3 separate regions of the Homo sapiens genome follow, and regions 1 and 2 are each linked to region 3. Evidence: fine-mapped expression QTL. A gene starts in region 3. Each other region holds a variant in brackets. All regions are shown on one strand. Distances are from middle to middle.

The links.
Region 1: its variant is fine-mapped to the expression of COMMD5 in whole blood (TOPMed, PIP 0.98).
Region 2: its variant is fine-mapped to the expression of COMMD5 in whole blood (TOPMed, PIP above 0.99).

Annotation. Positions count from the first base shown.
Region 1 is chr8:144,529,613-144,532,267 of GRCh38, reverse strand. ARHGAP39 (Rho GTPase activating protein 39) reads left to right here. Exons shown (of 12, transcript NM_025251.3): 11 at 1,397-1,566; 12 at 1,652-2,655. The coding sequence ends at 1,846. Among named protein-coding and RNA genes, the nearest start is that of C8orf82, 1.8 kb to the right of the region's middle. RefSeq lists a silencer at 2,191-2,290. The variant C/T (reference allele first, on the strand shown) is at 1,282.
Region 2 is chr8:144,822,934-144,825,724 of GRCh38, reverse strand. LOC100130027 (a long non-coding RNA gene) reads left to right here. Exons shown (of 5, transcript NR_147501.1): 1 at 1-412. Among named protein-coding and RNA genes, the nearest start is that of ZNF7, 3.2 kb to the left of the region's middle. The variant A/G (reference allele first, on the strand shown) is at 1,195.
Region 3 is chr8:144,851,481-144,854,271 of GRCh38, reverse strand. It overlaps COMMD5 (COMM domain containing 5), which reads left to right and starts at 1,224. Exons shown (of 2, transcript NM_014066.4): 1 at 1,224-1,433. RefSeq lists enhancers at 604-703, 1,254-1,583, 1,161-2,009 and a silencer at 994-1,183.

The sequences.
Region 1 (2,655 bases), 320 kb after region 3:
GCTCAGGCAGTGGTTCTCAGGGGCCCCTGTCTCCGCCTCTGGGGTCCACCCTGATCCTGCCCAGTGATGTGATGGCTTCCCAGTCACTTCTAGCACATCCTCCCTTCTGCCCATTGGACAGTTTCCCCAGGTGTCTGCTGGGCACCCCGAGGCCTACCTGTGCAATGCAGCCCACTCCCCACCTGCTGCTCCCTGCCCTGTGCCCTTCTGCCGTGCCTGCTATGTCTAGCCTACTCCCCACCTGCTGCTCCCTGCCCTGTGCCCTTCTGCCGTGCCTGCTATGTCTAGCCTACTCCCCACCTGCTGCTCCCTGCCCTGTGCCCTTCTGCCGTGCCTGCTATGTCTAGCCCACTCCCCACCTGCTGCTCCCTGCCCTGTGCCCTTCTGCCGTGCCTGCTATGTCTAGCCCACTCCCCACCTGCTGCTCGCTGCCCTGTGCCCTTCTGCCGTGCCTGCTATGTCTAGCCCACTCCCCACCTGCTGCTCCCTGCCCTGTGCCCTTCTGCCGTGCCTGCTATGTCTAGCCCACTCCCCACCTGCTGCTCCCTGCCCTGTGCCCTTCTGCCGTGCCTGCTATGTCTAGCCTACTCCCCACCTGCTGCTCCCTGCCCTGTGCCCTTCTGCCGTGCCTGCTATGTCTAGCCCACTCCCCACCTGCTGCTCCCTGCCCTGTGCCCTTCTGCCGTGCCTGCTATGTCTAGCCCACTCCCCACCTGCTGCTCCCTGCCCTGTGCCCTTCTGCCGTGCCTGCTATGTCTAGCCCACTCCCCACCTGCTGCTCGCTGCCCTGTGCCCTTCTGCCGTGCCTGCTATGTCTAGCCCACTCCCCACCTGCTGCTCCCTGCCCTGTGCCCTTCTGCCGTGCCTGCTATGTCTAGCCCACTCCCCACCTGCTGCTCGCTGCCCTGTGCCCTTCTGCCGTGCCTGCTATGTCTAGCCTACTCCCCACCTGCTGCTCCCTGCCCTGTGCCCTTCTGCCGTGCCTGCTATGTCTAGCCCACTCCCCACCTGCTGCTCGCTGCCCTGTGCCCTTCTGCCGTGCCTGCTATGTCTAGCCCACTCCCCACCTGCTGCTCTCTGCCCTGTGCCCTTCAGCTGTGCCTGCTCTGCAGACACCCCCTCACGGTGGCTACACAGACGACTCCTGAGAAAAATCCTGTTTTGCACAACTCTGCTGGCGTGACCCACATGCCTCCAGGATCGAGTTCAGGCCCCCAGGAGCCGAAAGGCCCTCTGGGGTCAGGGCCCAGCCTGGCCAGATGGGCCCTGTCCAGAATGAGC[C/T]GGCCCTCCCAGCCTGTCCCCCACAGCACCCCTCCATGCATGTCCGCCACGGGACCCCATTTGGCCCAGGGGTGCCCGCCGAGCAGGGCCGCTGAGCCCCGTGCTGTGTCCCCAGCGTCCCTGCTGAAGCTGTGGTACCGGGAGCTGGAGGAGCCCCTGATCCCGCACGAGTTCTACGAGCAGTGCATCGCGCACTACGACAGCCCCGAGGCGGCGGTGGCCGTGGTGCACGCGCTGCCCCGCATCAACCGCATGGTGCTGTGCTACCTCATCCGCTTCCTGCAGGTACTTCCCTCCCCGGGGGTCCCCGCTGCTTTCCCCTCCCCGCCCCGCCCCCGCCCCTCCGCGCCCACCCTCGCTCCTCCACCAGGTCTTCGTGCAGCCGGCCAACGTCGCGGTCACCAAGATGGATGTCAGCAACCTGGCCATGGTGATGGCGCCCAACTGCTTGCGCTGCCAGTCCGACGACCCGCGCGTCATCTTCGAGAACACCCGCAAGGAGATGTCCTTCCTGCGGGTGCTCATCCAGCACCTGGACACCAGCTTCATGGAGGGTGTGCTGTAGCGGGGGCGCCCGGGGACAGGAGGGATGTCCTGCCGCCCCCAGCCAGGCCGAACTCCGCACTCGCTCTCCCGGCAGAGGGGCCAGAATCGCCCGGCCCAGCCCTGGAGCCCCCTCCACTCCCCCAGGCCCCTGGCCCCGGCGCTCCCCACGTCTTCTGCCTGGTCTGAGGGTGCAGCCAGGGCACAGCAGCGGCGGGGAGGGCGCCTCTGGCCCCCCACCTCACGGCCAGTTCCCGCGGGCACCGCCTCGCCCTCCGCTGGCCGCGGGTCAGCTCCGAGAAAGTGCCTTCTGTGTCCTGGAGCCGAGCGACGCTGCCTCCTTGGGGCCGGGCTGCCTCCCTGTGGCTCCTGCGCGCCCTGGCCTGGGCCTTGCCCAGCCGCCCCGGTCTCTCCTTCCCTTTCTCCTGTCCTCGTCCTGGCCTGCAGCTCTTCCCAGCCCCGAGAGAGCTTCCCGACCTGTCCCCGCCTCCTCTCCCTCCCTCGGCCCGTGGTCCCCAGCTGGTGACTGCTCAGGAGTTTGGGGGCTCCAGGACAGTGGGCCCGGGGCCTGGCAGGCTCTCGGTGGGTGGGGTGGGGGCCCCCAAACCAAAGTCCTCTGGGGTAGGGAGCAGGGCTGGGCAGGCATTCTGGGGGCAGGGTGGGGGAGGGGCGAGAGTATTTTTTTCTTCGTGTAACTGTAAATCCAGAATCTATCCTGCATCGCAGCCCACCGTGTATAGAGATATAAATAGAGGGAAAGATATAAGAACTAAATTTGCTAATGACATAGTTTTAACCTAAATGCTATTTATCTCTGAGCCGTCCCCGTCC
Region 2 (2,791 bases), 29 kb after region 3:
GCAAATGTACCTGGGTGGAGCATCCCTTGCCTCATCATCGATCCCAAGAAAGCTGAAGCTCCATGTGAAAATTTCCGGAAGAAATGCTCTGGACTGATCACCCTGGCGTTTAGAGCTTCTTTCCTTGGAATCCCAACCAATTCCATCGCGGGACTGTTTGGGGAAGTCTTTTGAGGCAACTCCCTTGCTGCCACTTTTGGGGCAACTCTAGCCTCCTCATATTTGGCCAGATAGAACAGTTCCAAGCTGTAAATGTTTCCAGGAAAAAATCTCAACTACAAAGACACTTTCAAGGTGCTGCATTTCCAACAGCACTCTCCGTATCCGAGTGGACAGCCCAGAGCAATGGTGCTTCCAATCCACAGAGCCCCTCCACAGGTCCCTTGCCATCTGCAGACACCCACATCTCAAGGTGAGTGCAGACACCCACATCTCAAGGTGAGTTCAAATGTATCCTGGATTTGTTTTTTGTTTGTTTGTTTGTTTTTTAAGGCAGAGTTTCACTTTTGTTGCCCAGGCTGGAGTGCAATGACAGTCTCAGCTCACTGCAACCTCTGCTCCCGGGTTCAAGCGATTCTCCTGCCTCGGCCTCCCGAGTAGCTGAGATTACAGGCACCTGCCACCACGCCTGGCTAATTTTTTGTATTTTTAGTAGAAACGGGGTTTCACCATGTTAGCCAGGCTGGTCTCGAACTCCTGACCTCAGGAGATCTGCCCACCTCGGTCGCCCAAATTGCTGGGATTACAAGCGTGAGCCACCGCGCCCGGACCCGTGGATTTGTTTTAACAGGTGTGGTAAGGCATGCACACGTGAGAATGACTGTTGTGAAGGAAGAAGTTATAGTCGTGGGTCCCTGGAAACTGGGCAGGGCACACAGGGCGACATGAGAAGGACCAGGGATGGCCAGGAGGCAGAAAGGGGGAGAGGACTGAGTTTGGCCGGAGCCTTTATTTTCTCTGGAAGGAGAGGGCAGGCAGGGTAGGTATGCAGAGTGAGCTCACGATTGGACTATTTGAACAATTGTGGCAGGCTCAGGGCTGTAGGGGTGGCCCCTTCTTGTCCGGTACCTGGCCCTCGGGTTACTTAGGGCAGGGGAAATATTGGCTTGGTGAGTGACCGTGTGATAAGGGAGGGAGATAGTTGTGGACTCTGGATTGGTTGGTTTGTGTCTCAAAGGTGCACTGGGGCTGGGC[A/G]CAGTGGCTCACGCTTGTAATCCCAGCACTTTGGAGGCCGAGGAGGGCAGATCACCTGAGGTGAGACCAGCCTGGCCAACATGGTGAAACCTCGTCTCTATTAAAATACAAAAAAATTAGCAGGGTGTGGTGGTGCACGCATGTAGTCCCAGGTATTCAGGAGGCTGAGGTGGGAGAATCGCCTGCACGCAGGAGGCAGAGGCTACAGTGAGCCCAGATCACGCCACTGCACTCCAGCCTGGGTGACAGAGCGAGACTCCGTCTCAAAAAAAAAAAAAAAAGGTGCACTGGAAGGGGAGTGTTTGCCGTCTCTGGGAATTAGCTAGCCCTGGAGGGAGCAGCCTCTCCAGGATCAAGGCCCCAAATGCTTGGGTGACCCTGGAGAGCAGGGACGGAGCCCTGCAAACAAAAGGTTCTTCATTCTATGCACACACTCTCTGGTGCATGGTTTCAAAATGTCTTCGTGAAGTCGGGTCCAAGCCTCTATGCAGTGGAGAGAACACCTAGGGAGGAACAGTGCCTGACGGGTGAGCTGGGGAGGAGTGGGCACTGCCAGGAGGGCACTGGGCTGCTGTGGGATGGGGTGAGGTGAGCATCAGGTCGCGGTGCTGTAGGTGTTCCTGGAAGGCACCCTGGGCCCTCTGGACAGTCAGTCCTCACCCATGCCGCACCCATCAGAGTACAGAGATCGTGCCTCCCTGTAGTGATGATCTGTTTGGGATGGCATGATGACAACCACAAGCAGAATCTGCTTTTCTCTAACAGCCAAATCAAGAGAGACTGGAGGCTTGTGCCAGCTGGGCATCTTTGGGGGTGAGATCTTGGCAGCCGCTTCCTACCCTTCAAGTGTCCTGTGGGCAGCCCGCCTGGCTAGCTGGGTATGAGGGTCCGCCGGTTCAGGCCCTGCCTGCTGCACCTCCCCAGGCTCACTCCAGGCCTCTGGACTGTTTTCCTCAAGCAGGATTTCCAGCCTGCAAACCTGAGCTAATCTCCCTGCTGGAATGAGGGGAGGCGCCCTGGATCCTCACCCGGCCAGAAACGGGGGAGAGTGCTCCCAAGGGACCCTAGCAGAGGTGAGTGAGCGTGAACAGGGTGGACACAGCTCCACTGCCATAGGCCAGGCCACAACTTGGAGTGGGCCTGGGAGCTCAGAAGTTTCGGAGGACAGAGAACTAGGAGCCAGGAGCCTCCAAGAGCCACAGCGCCCACCTCACGGAGGGCTGGGGCAGACAGCTGGCCCCACCTGGGCACCATGCCATACAGAGACCCACGAGTGCCAGAGCAGCCACAGGACTGGGGTTTTGGGAACAGCAGTAGAGGCTGCTGCGCACACACAGAGGAGGATGGCACAGAGGCCCTGGAGATGGAGGCTCTGCTGTGCGTTGGGGATGGCCGTGCTGCCATCACACCAGGGATGTCCAGGGGGAGGCAGCCTCAGGAAGCAGTGCCACACGGGCTGGTTATGAGTCGACAGTGAGGCTTCCAGCTTGAGGACCCGGTGACATGGGCTGGGAGAGGGTATCTACTGCCGTGACCTTGGAGGGTCTTCTCTGTGCCTGCTGTTCAGGGCACCAGGGGTCCTGAGGGGAGATGGTCG
Region 3 (2,791 bases):
AAGTGGTCCTCCCACCTAGTCCTCATAAAGTACTGGGATTGTAGGCATGAGCCACTGCACCCAGTCTCCACTCCTATTTATTATTGAACACTATTCCATTGTATGGCTGATGTGGTTTGCATCTGTGTCCCCGCCCAAACCTCATGCTGAAAGGTAATACCCAATGCTGGAGGTGGAGACTGGTGGGAAGTGATTGGATCGTGGGGGTGGCTTTTCATGAATGGTTTAGTACCATGCCCTTAAGTTATGGTCTCATGATAGAGTTCTCCTGAGATCTGGTTGTCCACCTCCGCCTCCCAAAGTGCTGGGATTACAGGCGTGAGCCACCGCACCCAACCTGTCATTTTTATTATAACCCTTCTAATGGTATGAAATGGCACCTCCCCGTGGCTTCCATTCGCATTTCTCTAATAGCCAACAATGCCGAAGGCTTCATGTACCCATTACCCACTTTGTATCTTCCTTGATGTCTACTCACATCTTCTGCCCATTTAATTAGGTTGTTTCCCTTTTCAGAGTTTTTTTTTTTTTTTTAAGTTTTATTGGGCTATAATTCACATACCATATAATTCACCCATTTTGTACAATTCAATGATTTTGGCATATTATTTTTTAACTATGGTAAAGTACATGTTAAATAAAATGGCTCGGCCATTGTTTCGGACCGAGCTCCTGCGCTAGGGCCCAACAGAGCAGCCCAAAGCGGAACCGAGTCACGCGCGCCGGACGCCACCCGACAGGAGGGGAAACGGGGCAGCTCTCAAAACCCTGGAGGCGCAGACCGTCCACACGGGACAGGGACGCCCGCTCGGCTCCGCTCCGCGCTGATCCTCAAGGTCTCGCGGTTTCCCCGCCGCCCACCCGGACGCCGACGAAAGCCAGCGAGCTCCTCAGCCTCAGGTGACTGGAATTCTGACCCCAGACCACGGGACGCGTTCTCCCGCTTTACCCTCACTCTGCGCGGGCGGGGAGGGAGACGCGGGCGCAGGCCGCAGTTTCTACCTCAGAAACGGAAACACAACACCGCCTTCTTTTTCTTTGGGGAAAGAAAAAAAAAAAACTGTCTAAGACGAGGTCTGGGACCCCGCCGGCGACCCCCGATTCCCCCGGGCGGGGAGGGGGCGGGACCTGGCGCGGCCTCGGCTCCGCCCCTCGGGCCAGCGGACCACAGTGGGGCGGTCATTGCTGCCTTCCTAGAGCGGCCCGGAAGTGGCTCTCAGGGCGCTTCCGGGGACCAGGCCCGCTTTTGGCTGCATCAGCCGGGGATTGCCGGCGCCAGGTGCTGGGGGCGACTCGGACAGCGGGAGCGTGGGGTGGAGTAGGATGGAGTCTCCCTCCCGAGCTGGGGGTGTGGGCCTAGGAAAGGCTGCTTCGCCGCTGTGTTCGGAGAGCTCTGGATACTGCGGGGCTTTTCCGCGGAGGAGCGCCCGCCGGTAGGTTGGCCCCGAACCGTGGGGGCGGCGACGGCCGAGTGCCAATTTGACTCTGTGCACCAAGGTCCCCGCGCCCCGGAACGGGCGACGCCGCGCCCCCATCAGAGCCGCGGGTACGGAGTCAGGGTGCGAACCCGGCCTTCCAAGCCGCGCGACCGGAAGCGGGCAGCTCGGAGGCCTTCCCGGATGGCTCTTTGGAGTGGGAAGGAGCTCCTGGTGCTGGCGGGACGGTGAAGGAGTTGGCAGTGGGTGGTCGTTGACTCCCAGGGAGAATGGGGCGCCGTGAAGCCCGTGGGGAGCTCCTGGGCTCCCCCAGCGCTGTGCAGAGTGGCCTGACAAGTGCCTCGAGGACAGGAGCTGTGCCCCGCTGAGCTCTGCTCCAGTACCTGGTGTGCTGAGGTGGGCACGTGCGTTTCCTCTGGCATAGCAGGTGCTTGTGCTGCTGCACTGCTCCTTCAGGTGCGTCGGAACCCTCTTTAGTTGCCGCACTTGCCTCTGTTGCCAGCCGTTGCTCAGCTCTTCCAGCCCGGGGGTTGGGGCTGTGGTGGAAACAGCTGGGACTTCTGAATAGACAGGTCTAGGCTTCAGTCCTTGACTTTGGCAGCTGTGTTTAGAGCTTTGATTTCTTTTTACTTTTCTTTTCTTCTTCCCTGCCTCCCCTCCCTCCCCCCTCCCTCCATTCGTTCGTTCCTTCCTTCCTTCCTCACAGCATCTCTGTTGTCCAGGCTGGAGTGCAGCGGCTCGATTTCGTCTCACTGCAGCCACGACTTCCTGGGCTCAAGGGATCCTCTGTCCTCTCAGCCTTCTGAGTAGCTGGGACTACAGACGTGCACCACCACGCCTGGCTAGTTTTTTAAATTTTTTGTAGAAACGGGGTCTTGCTATGATGCCCAGGTTGGTCTCCAACTCCTGGGCTCAAGCGATCCGCTGGCCTCACCTTCACAAAGTGCTGAGATTTCAGGCTTGAGCCACTGCACCTGGCCTAGAGCCTTATCTCCCTCTCTGTCAGGTGAGAATGGTAATTCTTCTTGCCCACTGTTGTGAAGGATTCAAGATTGAATAGTTAAATGGTCTCAGTGTGGTCTGTGGCGCCAGCTGCAGTGTCCCTGTGTTCCCCGGACCGTTCCCCTAGTTCATTCTTTCATCTATTAATTTACTTGGAGAACTTGTGCTGTTTCCTGGTCCTCCTCCCTGCCCCCTACTTCTCTGCCAATTCCTGCTTGTCCTTCATGCCTTAGATGTCACTTCCTCTGGGAGGCCTCCGCTCCTCCTGGGACTGACATGGACCCCTCTGCCACCTGCTTCCAGGGCCATCTCCGCAGCACTGACTGTCATTGGTAGTTCACACTGTCAGCATG